2 separate regions of the Homo sapiens genome follow, and region 1 is linked to region 2. Evidence: fine-mapped expression QTL. Tissue or cell type: spinal cord. Region 2 holds a variant in brackets; the other region holds the start of a gene. All regions are shown on one strand. Distances are from middle to middle.

What was found. PIP is the estimated chance that this variant, and not a neighbour inherited with it, causes the effect.
Region 1: THBS2 starts here. The variant in region 2 is fine-mapped to the expression of THBS2 in spinal cord (GTEx, PIP above 0.99).

What each region holds. Positions count from the first base shown.
Region 1 is chr6:169,248,867-169,257,048 of GRCh38, forward strand. It overlaps THBS2 (thrombospondin 2), which reads right to left and starts at 4,980. Exons shown (of 22, transcript NM_003247.5): 1 at 4,858-4,980; 2 at 1,867-1,940; 3 at 1-107. The coding sequence starts at 1,918. RefSeq lists enhancers at 2,516-3,029, 3,542-4,054, 4,055-4,566.
Region 2 is chr6:169,210,997-169,219,178 of GRCh38, forward strand. It overlaps THBS2 (thrombospondin 2), which reads right to left. Exons shown (of 22, transcript NM_003247.5): 22 at 4,789-6,833. The coding sequence ends at 6,826. THBS2-AS1 (THBS2 antisense RNA 1) reads left to right here and starts at 2,216. Exons shown (of 3, transcript NR_134621.1): 1 at 2,216-2,582; 2 at 3,178-3,491. RefSeq lists a silencer at 1,955-2,304. The variant G/C (reference allele first, on the strand shown) is at 3,622.

The DNA.
Region 1 (8,182 bases), 38 kb after region 2:
CGGCACGCCGGGGTCGGGCCCGCGGAACTGCTTGGCGCCAATGGTCTTGCGGTTGATGTTGCTGATACTGAAAAGGTCGAAGGTCGTGTCTTTGTCCTGGTGACCAGCTGCAAAGGGAACCGCAGTGGAGAAGGGTGACGTAGGGGAAGAGGGCGAGGTTGGCCTGACCCAGGGTGACAAACCAGAACCTCGCGTGTAAGGAAATTAACGAGGCCTCCCAATATCCCGCAGCTTCTCTCCCTTTTTTATGGGAATCCTGGAGCCACCTCTGATGAAAAGCCACTATCCTCCGTGCCAGTGCCGCTACTCAGAGTGTGGGCCCAACGCAGCTGCGGGTCTGTGGGGTCAGTTTCTGCCCCTGGCTGGTCGAGGAGCGTGTGCCAGAAGGTAAATCGGTGGAGACAGGCAGCGCCCTGTCCGTTCAGCTGGCCCTTTGCATAGCCCGACCTTCTTGGTGAGGGAATCCCGGCCTCGCTTGACATCCTGGCACATGTCCCAGGTCACTCTGTCTGGCTCTTCCATCTCAGATCTGAGGCTGAAAAGCAGCCATCCTGTCTACCAGTTGATTGCTCAGGAAAAAACCAAATAAATGAATAAACTGGGAAAGACATGGATCTTTAGCCTTGCTATTGATAGAGTGTCAGAAAGCGGCTAAATCGTATGTTGCTTTCTTGTTGAGATCAACTGCCTAAAACCAGTTATGTCAGCAGGTTGTTATTTTGTAAAAATGTATTCTCCAACTCTTAATGCACCCTGTGGGTAAGGATCTGAAAGAGTGGTCAGTATCAAGTACAGAAACAAATGGTTTTAAGTCACCACCTAAGCTATTGGCAAGAAAAGTGATCAGATCTCACGAAAATCATAATAGTTTAAATAATTCAAAGCCAGGCGCGGTGGCTCACACCTGTAATCCCAGCACTTTGGGAGGCCGAGGTGGGTGGATCATGAGGTCAGGAGACGGAGACCATCATGGCTAACGTGGTGAAACCCCGTCTCTACTAAAAATACAAAAAATTAGCCAGGCATGGTTGTGGGCGCTTGTAGTCCCAGCTACTCGGGAGGCTGAGGCAGGAGAATGGCGTGAACCCGGGAGGCAGAGCTTGCAGTGAGCCCAGATCACGCCACTGCACTCCAGCCTGGGTGACAGAGCAGGACTCCGTCCCAGAAAAAAAAAAAAAAGTAATACACTGAACAGAAAGTTTAGCCAAAGCCTTCCTTTTCATCTAATATTTAGCAAATTAGAACAGGATAATACACAGGGTTGCTGACAGAAGTGGGCAATGGACCACTTTCCATAGAGTTACTTGGCAAGAATTAAAAGCTTTGATTCAGCAATTCTAATTTTGTAACCTATCCAAAGGATATAATCACAAATGCTACTTAAGATTTATCCACGTCAATATTTTTTGTGTCATCATTTATGCTAATGAAAATAAACCAATCTAAGTGGGAATTGATTGAAAAAGATCAGGCTTTATCTGTGATGAAATATTATGTGGTCATTAAAAATCATACTGTAGAAAAGTAAACACATGGGAAAATATTTAAAGGAGGAAGAAAGTGGAGCAAAAAGAATTCAACAAACACCAAATACTTGCAGTGTTGTGAACATCCTCTATAGAAAAAAGGATAAACTGTGCAACTCTAGGTGGAATTGCATTTTTCTCTAACACCTGAATTTTCCAAAGATAAATTATCTCATGTCATATTGGCTCAGAAGTAAGTTACTATTTGATTTATAAAGGAGCTAGAAGGTCCTCACGGGTAAGATTGTCCAACCACACACTTTATTTTGTCATCTCTCCCCTTGCAGCTAAGCCATATCTCACAAGCCAGAGAGAGACCACAGGCTCTGAGGACACTCACCTTGCGTGCTGGGCCACACCCACAGAGCCAGCAGGACCAGCCTCCAGACCATCCTGCCTCCTGCAGCTGAGCTCCTGGGAATACAGGAAACCCTTGTTAGTGATGAGTCCACAGCTGCAACCCTGCCTGTGAGCGAGACTGGCCCAGTGACTCACATGACCATTGAATAACAGTTTGCATATAAAACTCAGCACCAACTGGATTTGTGGCAAACTGAGAGCGAAGGAGGAAATTTACTCTTCAAGCAGGATTCTTCTAACTATAAGATTTGTTGAGCTAGCATTTGCCGGCAAGCACTGCACATCACGTTCTAAATATTCCTATTATTTCATCTTCATAATAGCCTGGGAGGTATGTGCTGCTCTAATTGTCCTCATTTTACAGATGAGCAAATGGAAGATGGGCAAGTTCAGCGCTTGCCTGGAGTAATTCTGTTCATACGACTCGTAGACAGGACTTAGATGTAGAAAGTTTGAATTTAGAAAAATATCCAGCCTGACAAAAATAATCTGTGAACGCATTTTGTGTAAATATCCAGCAAAAAACAGTTATGCATAACCTAATTAAATAGAATGAATATCAACTGTAAAAAAAAGTTACAAATAAACTTAATTTGGTGAATTATACTTACAAAACAACAGAACACTTGACTTAGCCATCATTTTGACCCTGCCTCTTTATTTTCCTGCAGGCCTGTTTTTCCATTCTTGGGGATTTTAAGTTGGCACAGCTCAGTGGAGGCTGGCCCCGAAGTCAGGAGATGTGGTCCAAAGCCCGGCTGGGCGATTAACCCTGTGGATCTCAGCTTCTCCTCTTCCGGGCGAGCATGAGCCTGAGGGTCCCAGGGCTCCCCAGGTCCCTTCCAGCAATTGGTCACACCCTGCTCTAGGTTGAAGGGAAGACTGAGACCCCAATTCTTCCCATATTTAGAATATCAAAGGCCGTTAACTTCTCATTGTTAATCCAAGGACTCTCCCTCTCCAGAAACAACATTTGGTAACCTGGAAATCCTCACCTTCCAGGAATAGAGAAACATTCCTCAGAAGAAGAGAAATGCTTGGCAGCACCTGCAGACCCCCCACCCATCTGCTGCTGGGACCCCCCCCCCAAACCATCTGCTCCCCCCAGTGCCGCCCCAGGGGTCCTTGGTGATTGTTTCATCTGTCCTGGCTCCGGAAGCAGCACGGCCTGCGGCCGGAGTCAGCACCAGGCTGAGCAATGCTGAGCACCAGCTGTGCAACCTAGGGAAACTTACTTAACTTCTCTGTCTCAGTTTCCTCATCCGTAGAATGAAACGTAGCGTCATGTAAAATGCCCACCTCATCGGGTTGTCATGAGAGATGAATTCGGCAAATGAAACTTCACCAGGGGCTGACTTAGCCCAGCGAGCCACAGGCATGGGTTACCGGAGCAGAATGTGCCTCTGGGTCTGGGGCGCTTTCTACTCTAACTGCCCGAGGCAGCTGCAGTAATAATGGTGGTGCTGATAGGGCCTTTCTATGGAGCTCTTAAGAGGGTTTAATGACAGGAGCGAACACTTGGCCATGAGCTTAGAACAGTACCTGCATGCAGTAAGCACCACAGAACGGTGTTAGAATACACAGCTCAGGTACAGCCTTGGCAGGCTCTTCCCACCTCCCCACCTCATCAGCCCACACTGCCGGGTACGTCGCAGTCCCCTAAGGACAGCTGTGTGGGGCTGGCCCTGCAGAGGCCAGCCAAGAACAGGATGGTAAATGCGAAAGTTCTGGATGCCCAGCTTCATAAGGACAGGTTAGAAAAACTAAATCAAACTCCTTTGACGAAACCAGATCCTACTGTCTCTGCCTTGAGGTAGATTCTTACAAGAGCAGGAGGCTAACAAAGCATCCCCTGCTGCGGATTGTCAAAGGACAGTGAGGCTCCATCCCACAGGAAGGATGAGCAGCCAGGCTACCTGGCCTCAGCCCATCCAGGGACACCGGGCATGCATGGATGGAGCCACGGATGAGCCAGTGCCGCTCACCCCTGCCCCAGCCTCTGCACGCCACACATCCACGTTTATGCTTGTGTTTTTCCAAAAGAAAGATTTCGGTGCCTGTCTGCAGCAGAATGTAGTTTGAATTTGCAAAGGTCTTTTAAAACTCTTTTCGTATGAACAATCAAAGTAAAAGATAGCTTTGCAGAGAGCTAATTGTTTACCGGCCGTCCACCACCAACAGCAGTCTGATTAAACACCAGACTCCTGGGTGCTCAGCTCCCAGTCCTGGGCAGCCAAACCCACCTTCCTTAAGTGGTAGCCAGGCAACCTGCCAGCTCGCTTTTCATATGCAAACTGCCCCAAGACTGTTAAAAGTCGCTGTGTGTCCCGGCAGTCACAGGATTTTCCATAGACTTACCACAAATACTCTCTAGTTATGTTCAAAACCACTTTTCAGCTGCTAATAATGTTAACAATCAGAGTCTCTCTTTAATCTACTAATAATGTTAACAATCAGAGTCTCTCTTTAATCTACTAATAATGTTAACGATCAGAGTCTCTCTCTAATCTACTAATAATGATGTTAACAATCAGAGTCTCTCTCTAATCTCCAGTTACTTTTCAGATATTCCGGGAGTTGTTTCTAATTCTCTCCTCAATAACAAACTCTCATGTGGAATCTTCTTCTTCGGAAACTGAAAACATAAAGCGTTTACCCGGGTTCCCAGGCAGGTATATACATTGAAATAGCAGCAGCCACAACCCTCAGAGAGGAAGGGGTGCCCGGCTGGTGAAAGCACAGCCACGGAGGAAAAGCTGAGGAGCGGCCACGTGCCTTGCTCTTCAAGCGGGCAGTAGAAACACCACGTGAAGAAACACTTGCCATTTAGTGTTAATAGATACACCACCCACCTTAAGTTAAGAATCGAAATTGCTCCTTTTTCTTCTCCGCTTCTTAGAGTTCGAGAACTCTAATTTCTTAAAATTAGAGCACCATTAAATAATTGATTGAGTTTAAGAAATAATCGTACCTGGTTTGCCAAAAAGATGCAGTGATGACTGGTTTCAGTGTTCCGGACCGAGTCAGAAAGGCGCAGGCTCTGCTGGAGCGAGAGACCGGCCCTGCAGTGCAGGATGCTCCGGTGGACGTGGCCGAGCGGCTCCCGGGCAGCGCGGCTTTATATGCCGCTTCTCCTGTGCAGGGCTGTCAATCAGACACACGAGGAAGCACGTTTAATTCATTCCTTCGAAGGAATGACATCATCCCCCTTCTGATCTCACCATTTGCTCCGAGTACCTGCTGCAGGGGTCCAAGTCCAGCCCCTCTGTACTGGATGCCGTCTCCTCCTCCTGCACCCCGGCCCCTGCCAGACAGGCCTGGGAGGAGCCAGACGGAGAGAGGGAAGGCAGGGACTCACTTTTCCTGTCTTCTCTCAGGAAATAAGATGCTATAAATAACACTAGCAAGATTGGCTAGAACTCCTCATTTTGCTTAAGAGAAAAAAATGCAAGTTCTATGCCTTAAATATGTTTCGAATTACTCAATGTGATATTGGTCTTTCTAAACCAAATGAGTGACTCTCAATAACACATGAAATACATCGGTGAGTATCAATAATCAGTCTGTATATTAATAAAGTTATTATGGTCAATAATCAAGTGTATTATGTGACAAAAATGAAATTTAATATAAAAGGAAGTTGCCAACATTTATCTCAGGCAGTTAGAGGACTGAAAAGCTGTACTGCAGCTTTGGGAAAATTCATTTTTACCCAAATTCTGCTTCATTTGCTCAGTGAGGATCCCCTAGAAGGACGTCTCCCAGTGGACGTGCAATACCCGTAGAAGGGTGTGTCCCAGTGGACGTACAGTACCCGGCCAAGTCCCCTTGGTGCACACTTGCACGTGGCCCCATCACAGGAACAACCTGACGTGCAGGCACAGAGCAAGGACTCGAGAGAACGAGAAGCAGTGGCAGCAGCTAACCCCCGCCCCTCCCACACCTCAGGCATCACCCGCAATCAGGGTGCACTCTGCATGGGGGTGGGGGGCACCGCTTCTCAGAGGTCAGGGTGGACGATGGATGCGGAGGGGCTGCTTCTCCCAGGTCAGGGTATACAGTGGAAAGGGGAAGCTGCTGCTCTAAGGTGGGGGTTGATGGTACATGGGGGAGGGGCTGCTTCTCCCAAGTTGGGCTGGACAGTGGATGGGGGAGGTGCCACTTCTCCCAGGCCAGTGTGAAAGGTGGATGGTGGAGAGGCTGTTTCTCCCAGGTCAGTGTGCAAGGTGGCTGGGGATGTGTTGTTTCTCCCAGGTCAGGGTTAATGGCAGACAGGGGAGCTGCTGCTTCTCCTGGGTTGGGGTGGACCTTGGATGGGGGAGGTGCTACTTCCCCAGGTGGGGTGGATGGTGACTGGGGAGCTGCTGCTTTGCCCGGAGCCACCTGCACCTGCTTCATGTCGGCACCTGCCTGTCAGGTTCCTTCACGTTTGTGTGGAGTTGTCAGCCTGGCCATGGATCCGTCAAGTCCTAGTTAGAGAACATTAAAGCGAATTTCTGTGGACACAACCCTTACTGTGTCTGTGGCAGGGGAGTGTCTCTTAAGCCTCCTGGCATTCCCCCACAGGGGTCCAGCGCTGCAGAGGTCGGCAGGCACCATGAAGAGCAAGCCTCACTTTCTGGCCTCTGTCTTCAGGGAGGATATGCGAGCGGGTGTGGGAGAGGGAAGGAGCTTTCATTTGTGAAAACCTCTGTTTTTCCTAATGGCACCTGTTTATTTATCACTTGGCAAACATCAGTTTCCGACACATGCACAGACAAAAGCCTCCAAGAGTGTATGTGTCATGTTTAAGGTACGTTATTTTGCTTTTTAAGCTATTAGGGACAAAGTCATCATTTGAATTAAAAAGTAGTTTAAATAGATTGATGTTATCTCAAATTCAAAAAAAGTATAAACCAGTTCCCCTTAAAGAATTTTCAGTGGATAATTATCCATTCATCAGTTTGAGTTTTTCTGCCTCCAGGTTAGTTTTTCCTGGGGCCAGAACATGGAGGGCGGCATCCCCTACTCTGCGTGCCACGGCCTCTCCTGTTCCTCAGTCCACAGAATGCGTGTTTCCTGATTAAAGCTGAAGACAGGCAGCTCAGCTGCTCAGCACTTCAGGAGCATGCGGTGAAGACCGTGACACTCACTGGGGAGCAGGAAGGTATGTATTCATGACTCCACGTGCCGATGGGCAGGTACAGAGAAGATGGGCCTCCTTCTGTAAAATCTGGCAGCCCAGAATCAGGGAAGTCTGTTTAGAGGAGACAGAAGGTAAGCCGATTGGAACATGGCCCGTGAATGGGGTGTCCCCAGTTGAGAAAGTATTTCAGGCAGAGAGAGTGGGTAGGTGTTCATGGTGCAAAGAACAGCAGGCTCCTGGTGCGGCACCCAGGCCAGGTGCATGGAATGGGCTTCATAGACGATGGAAGTCACAGAGAGTTTCCTGGCAGGGTGAGGCGGGACTTCATGGGCCCACTGTGCAGGGGACCAGAGGGGGAGTAGAGGGGACAGCCCCTGGTCAGCATCTTCCCTGGGCCCCCTGGGGGTGAGGAGGAAGGGAGATGTGAGGATGAAACAAAAAGCAGTCAGAGGCTTCGTCAGGAAAGCCAGCGATGCTGAGGGAAGCATCATCACATGTGTGCGCGGGAGGATGAGGGACAGACACGCAGCAGGTGGAATCATGTCCCCCCAAGTTCACATCCACCCCAAACCTGTGAATGAGCTTACTGGAAATACCACAGTGCTTGTGGATGAAATCAAGTGTAGATGTCGTCGAACTGATGTAGGACAGGCTCCAAATCTAATGGCTAGTGTTCTAATAAGAATAAAGAATATGAAGACGGAGACACAGGGCGAGCTCCGCTTGATGAAAGAGGCAGAGACCACAGTGATGCAACCACTAGCCAAGGTCACCAAGGGCTGCCAGAAACACCAGAACTGTGGGAGACAGGGAAGGGGCCTCTGCCAGAACATTCCGAGGACGTGCAGCCCTGCCACACACTGCATTTAAAACTGCTGGACTCCAGAACCATGGGACAATACATGTGTGTTGTTTGTGATACTTCATCATAGCGGGCCCAGGGAACTAATACAGGCACACCTTGGAGATACCGCAGGCTCGGTTCCACACCTCTGCAATAAAGTGAGTTGCATGGATTTGTGCTTTCCCAGTGCATATAAAAGGGATGTTTACACTCCACTATTGTCTATTAAGGGTGCAATAGCATTATGTCTAAGAGAACAATGTGCATATCTTAATTCTAAAACATTTCATTGCTCAAAACTACTAACCGTCATTTGAGCCTTCAATG
Region 2 (8,182 bases):
TCATTTTTGGCAAAGACATCAAGAACATACATTGGGGAATGGACAGTCTCTTTGATAAATACTGCCAGGAAAGTTAGACATGCAGAAAAAAATGAATCGAGACCCCCCTCTTTTACCATATACATACATCAAATCAAAATGGATTAAAGACTTCAATGCAAGACCCAAAACGATAGAACTACTACTAAAAAATAATACGGAGAAACATTCCAGGACATTGATCTGGGTAAAGATTTTTTGGTAAGACCTCAACATTACAGACAACTATAACAAAAATAGAAAAATAGTATTATATCAAGCCAGAAAGCTTCTACACAGCAAAGGAAAAAATCAACGAAGTGAAGAGACAACCCACAGAATGGGAGAAAATATTTGCAAACTACCCATCCAACAAGGGATTAGTAATCAGAATATATAAGAAACTCAAACAACCCAATTAAAAACTGGGCAAAAGACCTAATAGACATTTCTCAAAAGAAATGGCCAACACGTACATGAAAAAAGGCTCAACATCACTAGTCATTATAGAAATGCAATTCAAAACCACAAGAAGATATTATCTGACCCCATTTAGAATTATCACAAAGACAAAAAATAGCAAATGCTGATGAGAAGGTGGAAAAAAAGGAACACTCATACACTGTTGGTAGGGATGTAAAGTAGTACACCCACTAGGGAAAACAGTATGGGGGTTCCTCAAAAAACTAAACTAGAACTACGTTTGGTATAGTCCAGCAATCTTACTGCTGGGTATGCATCTGACAGAAAGGAAATCAGTATATCAAAGAGACATCGGCCCTCTCATGTTTATTACAACACTACTCACAATAGCCAAGACATCGAATCAACCTAAGTGTTCATCAATAGGCGAAAGGACAAAGAAAATATTGTATATGCACACAATGGAATACTAGTCAGCCATAAAAAGGAATTAAATCCTGTCATTTGCAGCAGGATGGATAGATCTGAAGATCATTCTGTTATGTAAAATAAGCATGACACAGAAAGACAAATATTGCATGTTCTCATTCATATGTGGGAGCTAAAACAGTGGGTCTTGTGGATGTTGAGAGCAGGATGGCGGATGCCAGATGCTGGGGTGGAATGGTGGAGAGGAAGATGAAGGGGAGCTGGTTAAGGAGTACAAAAATACAGTCAGAAGGAATGAGCTATCACATGCAGTATAGTAGGAAAATTATGCTTAATAGTTTATTGTACATATCAAAATAGCTAGAAGAATTGTAATGTTCTCAATACAGAGAATAAAAATGTATGAGGTCATGGGTATCCCAATTACCCTAACTTTATCATTACACATTTTAAACAGATATCAAAATATCACATATAACCCAAGAATACTACAGATATTATAATGAATTAGAATTAAATCTTCCAAACTATACACGAGGGTGTCTTTCCATTTATATAGGTTTTAATTTATTTTGGCATTGTTTTTCTGTTTTCATAGTACAAGTCTTCTGCCTCCCAAGTTACATTTATTACGAGGTATTTTATTGTTTTGTATGTTATTGCAAATGGTATTGTACTTTTAACTTCCGTTTTAAATTGTTTCTGTCTGGTATACAGACGCACAACTGATTTCCATGTGTTGATCTTGTTCTCTGACACTTTGCCAACTTTTCCACTTCTTTAAAATCCAGAATAAGTATGGCCTGAGACAAGGGAGGTTTGTGTATTCATGATGCATATGTATAGTCACGTGTATGTTGCTTGCGTATATACCATTCAATAATCAATACATAAATATAAATAATATGTATCTCCATTTTAACAACTGTAATTTATTCCTAAAGCCATATTTAAAAATAATTACATTTTTAAATGGGAAAAGTCGTATGAAGAATTCTGTCCCACCTCAAGATAACTAAACAATTTTTCAGTAGAAAAATAAATCTAAAAACAGAAAAAATATTTTAAAAGTAAATAAATCGTACATAAAACGAAGCGCAATCGAGTTTTGTTGCACTAATGCTTTCTTCCTCTTTCTACACCATTTTGTTTGCAGAATCGGCCTTTTGAAGGTTCCGGGTTACCCTGCAGTGAAGCTGTCATTCAAGCACAGTCAGGGCCCAGGAGAGGGCGCAGGGAGGGCGCAGGCGCGCAGGGAGGGCTGGGCATGCGCTCGGCGGGGCCTCCGGCTCTCGGGGACGCGCGCGGGCGGGGCTCGCCGGGGCTGAACCGGCTGAGCTTCCCAGGGACGCCCCGACCCAAGCCCTGCAGTCCGCGCGCGTCAGGGGTGTGCGCTGGAGGCCGGAAAGTCGAATATCACTTCCCATCCTGCATTTGATGTGCTTTGGGGTTGAAAAAGCCCTTATGTGGTAAAAAAAAAAAAAAAAAAAAAGTCAGAAAAGTGGCAAAAGTCTTCAACGGCCTGAAAAAGGCCGAGACAGGAACTGAGAAGCTGGCAGTAGGTCCTGCTACTGCTGCAGGGGCGGCGGGCGCCCTGGGTGGGCCACGAGGCAGGGACAGCCGAGGCTCCGCGCTCACCCCACCCGCAAGGGGCCAAGCGCAGACTCAGGGGAGCCAGAGGGGCCGGACCGCTGAGCAAGGGCTGGGGAAGGGTGAGTCAGGGGCCCCTGTGGGACTGCACGGGGTGGGGGGCACGGGCCCGGACCTCTCTCACAAATGCCCACGTGGTCCCCAAGGCTAACGCCGGCTGCGTGGGCCGCAAGCTGCTCTGGGCCCGCAGCTCACTCCCCTGGGCACAGGGCTGACACCCGGGCGAAGCAGGAGTGTCCCAGCTTGCTTCAGCCCCTCCCCTGGGCCCCCAGGCTGGTGGCTCCAGAAGGACTTTACTAAGAGGGTGGGAAGCATCAGTGCAGGTACCTGCCCTGGGCTAAGGGCCTCGTGTGGGTGATAGCCCTCAGCAGGGCCCTCCCATTTGGGCATTGGCAGCCCACAGGGCTGTGGCCGTGGAGCTGGAGTGGCAGCTCCTGGATCACCCCACACCTGCGTTCCTCAAGGCCTAGGCACCACTTGCTCCATGGTCAAAAGCATCACTTTGTGAAACGCAGACTGAGCAAAGCTGGCCTAAGATTTTGGTCCTCCAGGAATGACGGAAGGAGCCCTCTGCCCCCATGTAGCCTATAGCTGGGACACGCAGCAGCCAGTGAGTTGGTCACGGTATGAAGGCTTCTCTCCTCCCGGCAATCACAGATCCCACGCTTGGATACTTGGGAGTGAAGATGTGTTATTTCACCCACCGACTCGTTCCACACGACCAAGGCCTGTGCCTGCCCTGAGGGCGAGTTGGTTGAGCCTTGTACAGACAACTCTCAGAGCGTGGGCCTGGGCCGAACCTTTCCCTGTGAGCAGCAGCATCAGCGTCTAGAACGACGGCCCTCCCGGTCCACGGTGGAAGGTGCGGAGCTCCCGTGGTGTGCTGGCAGCGATTCGCAGAAGGGAGATGGAGGGCCACAGGGCAGGTGCTCGCACGGAGTCATCGAGGTCCAGGGACACCTTCCTCCCAGGTGAGCTCACAAAGGCACCACACATTAATCCTGGGAGACAACCATTCTGATGTGGCTAAGGCCATCGACAGGGAACATGATTGTCAGGAAACCTCAACTTTTCGATAAATGACAGCAAAACCTGAATGCA[G/C]GAGAAATGTATCTCATTTTAATGCCTGACTTCTAAGCATCCTTATTCAACATATTATATGTATTTTTTGTTTCATGAGTAAAATGTACATTGAGCTTCCTCCAGTAGCTGTCCATAGACCAGCCACTATCACTGCCATCATTATTTTGTTTCTAAACTTTTCTTTTTACACATGTAGGTCTAGCTTTTTCCTCCATATTGATGAACTAAAACTCACTCATTTCACAACTCAAAGCCAGGGCCTTCAGTTCACAGCCCGTTGCCTCAGACGGCCTTTCCTATATCTTATTGCTTCACTGTCTGACTCACTCCAGCGTGTTTCAGCCAAGTATACTTGTTTTTATTCATCTTGCTCTCTTTTCCTCCCTCCCCCAACTCCCCCTCTTTCCCTCTGTCTCTTTGTCTCTTTCTCTCTCCCCCATCCCTCCCTCTCTTCCCCTTTCTCTCTGGATGCCCTCTCTCCCTCTCTCCCTCCCTCTCTTCCCCTTTCTCTCTGGATGCCCTCTCTCCCTCTCTCCCTCCCTCTCTTCCCCTTTCTCTCTGGATGCCCTCTCTCCCTCTCTCCCTGTTTTTCTTCTCTGTGTCTGCCTGCATAATATTCAGAAATCCCAACAAGAGCAGCTGGAGCTGCTAAAGAAACCCCAGCGTTCTGTGCTGCTGCCATTGCCTCCTCCAACTGGTGAGCCCGATCGGCCCATTTTTAGGCAGTGCTGTGGTTGGAAATGGGCCCTTCCTCTGGGGTCCGCTACTTCCCTCCACCTGACTCAGAAGAATGAGTCAAGAGGGAAGAACAGCTCGTATTAGGGAGAGGGTCCCGTGTGCTGTTGCCTTTTTCGGAATCATTTCAATCATGTTTGCCAAATTCCCTACGAAGTTCTGTTCCCTCGTTTGACAATGAGCAGAGGCAGGAGAGATGAATTGCTAAATGGTTGTATCCCACACCGTGCTGGGAGGCTCAGCAGAACAGAGACCTGTGTCAAGCAGGGCTTCCTTCTCCACCAGGCCCTTCAGCCTGCATTTTAACCTGTGACTTGCGAGGAGATAGCCCGTGATCACACCACAGGCCTACTTACATGACAGGAAGCAAAATGCCAATTCCTTCTACCCCTTTCCCCCACCCCGGTAGAAACCCTGCTAGTTCTTTTTAAAAAAGGGAGAGAGATCATGTATAGAAAACCTTTTTTACAATTTATTTCCTGTTGTTAATCTTTAAAAATGAGGTTCTAGCTAAGTGCAGGGTTTCAGTGGTGAAATTTTGACCATGTGAACACATAAATAAATATTTACAGTCTTTGGCAAAACACATGACGTTTCATCAACCTATACGATAAATTTGTTTAGAAAAACATAAATAATTTACAAAAAATATGGTACATTCTAAATACTCACATCATCGTCACTCCCACACCATTGTACGGTTGACCCCACAACACAGAAACAGAAAACCTGCACGCTGTTGACAGTCGCTACATTTAATGAAGTATCCCAACGCTTCGTTGGTCTCGGGAATACAGCTCCACACGCAAAAAAGTAAAAAGTGCAGCAAAACAACAACACAACGATCAACCTCAAAGGAAACAACAAAATTAATTTTATCAAAATGCAATGTGTACATTAAGACTAAAGTTATGGATTGTTCCTGTTTGGCATAGAAATGTGATGACTATTAACAGAAAGGGGAAAAAGATTTGCCCCCTATCCATCATCAGACAGACAGACTTCTCTTACTAAACCCCTTATGTGGAGTGGGATGAGTGACTATTTCCTGCAGAAAGATCATGCAACTTAAAGCAAAAAAACAAACCAACCAACAAAAAAAACAAAAACAAAAACAAACTTGTGCATATTACACATGACTGATTATTGGGTGTGCCTGGCAAGACTAAATGCTGATTCTTTTCAGCGTTTGAATTAAAAGAATTCCATATACAGCAGATAGATAACAGTAACAAATATTGAACTAAAATCGCTGGCAACATTATATATTTAAGGTTCCATCATAAACTCCTCATTATTCTCTATGTATTCTGTTACAGCTTCTAGCATGCTTCATCGTGACAACCTAATATTATCAAGCCTCATATTTTCACAGGATTATATACTTATTAGATGTTTGTTTCTAGAAATTATACTACATATGTGTTACTAGGCATATTTAAAATAAGTTACTGGTAAATGGAGTTGCATTCTATAGTCACTTAATAAATATTAACAAAATATTTATAACTGGAACCTTAATGAAATGTATCATCAAATCAGGTAAAAGCAACTTGTCCGCAGTTACCAAAGCCTAGATACGCGTTAGATGCGCCTTTTCCGGCCTGTGCGTCTGCTCTGGTTCCTCTCAGGCAGCAAAGCTGGGGAAGGAAGCTCAGGCAGGAGCCTCCCCGACGCCACAGCGGCACAAGCAGCAGCTAAAGCACCGCACTTTGCTCTGCTAACCTTTTACTTAAATGAGGTTTTGCCAAATCCACATCTGGAACCGCGTCACACCCATTTGCAAGGATGTTTGTTCTTTGATGAAACTGCATCTCTACTGCACATGAGGGCTTTCATTGTAGGACAAGAGGAGAGTTCGTTTATTTTTGTAACTGTTTTACATGTTCCGATTAGTTAATCGGTAGCTTATGTCATTTGCTATGCCTGTTGTCTTCTAATCTCTCCTTACTAAAACATTACTTCAAATTTGAATTGACCCTTGTTTATAATTTATTTAATGGGATTTGTGTGTCATTGTAGAGCAACTCTAATTCAAGAATAGTGACAACTTTAAGCACCAAAAGTAGTTCAGCAATATTTTTCATGCTTAATTTATCATAATGGCTTATGCACAGTATTCCCTTCAACTCCATATACACATAAATACAATAAGTAATTACATTTTATATGTAAACGTCATTCTTTTTAAACAAACAAGAAAAAGCAATGTAATGGCATGCCCAATTTTCACTCCACATAAAGTCTCATATATCACCAAACTGGTTTCCTCTAGTGGGTTAGATGTTCATCTCTGAGTTCCATTGATATTTATCCTCTGAAGGCACTTGGGTTTGGGGTTGCTGGCAGGAGGTGAAGAACCATCAGAGTTAAGGTCAAGGGACAGGAGGTGCTGCTAGAGAGAGAAGCCACAAGGACCACAATGAACTGAGGTGTCTAGGGACCATGGCATGCACAGGGCATTGCCGGAAATGCAGCAAATCTTGTTTAAATATCTACAAAAAGAAAAAAAAAAGCAATAAACAATTAGCATAACTGGGCCATGGGTAGTGATTTATTTTGTTTTACCTAGAACCAGAAATATAATTACTTTAATTAAAGATGAGATCTATCATATGGATGGATGGATGGATGGATGAAATGGATGGGTGGATGGATGAGATGGGTGGGTGGATGGATGAGATGGGTCGGTGGGTGGGTGGATGAGATGGATGGATGGATGGATGGATGAAATGGATGGGTGGGTGGATGAAATGGGTGGGTGGATGGATGGGTGGATGGATGGGGTGGGTGGGTGGATGAGATGGATGGATGGATGGATGAAATGAGTGGGTGGATGGATGGATGAGTGGGTTGGTGGATGAGATGAATGGGTGGATGGATGATGAGATGGTTGGGTGGCTGGATGAGATGGATGGATGGGTGGATGGATGGATGAAATGGATTGGTGGATGGATGAAATGGGTGGGTGGATGGATGGATGAGTGGGTTGGTAGATGAGATGAATGGGTGGATGAGATGAATTGATGGATGGATGGATGAATGAGATAGGTGGGTTGGTGGAGATGGATGGGTGGGTGGATGGATGAGATGGATGAGTGGGTGGGTGGGTGGCTGAGATGGATGGATGGGATAGATGAGTGGGGGTGGATGAAATGGATGGGTGGATGGATGGATGGATGAGATGGATGGGTGGGTGGGTGGATGGACTAGATGGATAGGTGGATGGGGCTGGGTGGATGGATGGATGAGATGGGTGGGTGTGTGGGTGGGTGGATGGATGAATGGATGGATGGATGAGATGGATGGTTGGGTGAATGGATGAGATGGATGGGCGGATGAGTAGATGGATGGATGGGATGGATGGATGGATGAGACAGGTGGATGGATGGATGAGATAGGTGGGTGGATGAGATGGATGGATGGGTGGGTGGGTGGATGGAGGGATGAGTGGGTTGGTGGATGAGATGGATGAGTGCATGGGTGGGTGGCTGAGATGGATGGATGGATGGATAAGATGGATGGATAAGTGCTGGGTGGATGGATGGATGATGAGTGGGTGGGTAAGTGGATGAGATGAGTGGATGGATGGATGAGTAGGTGGGTGGATGAGATGAGTGGATGGATGGATGAGTAGGTGGGTGGATGAGTGGATGGATGGATGAGTAGGTGGGTGGATGAGATGAGTGGATGGATGGATGAGTAGGTGGGTGGATGAGATGGATGGATGGATGGATGAGATGGATGTATTGATAGGTGGATGGATGGATGGATGAGTAGGTAGGTGAGTGGATGAGATGAATGGATGGATGGGATAGATGAGTGAGTGGGGGTGAATGAAATG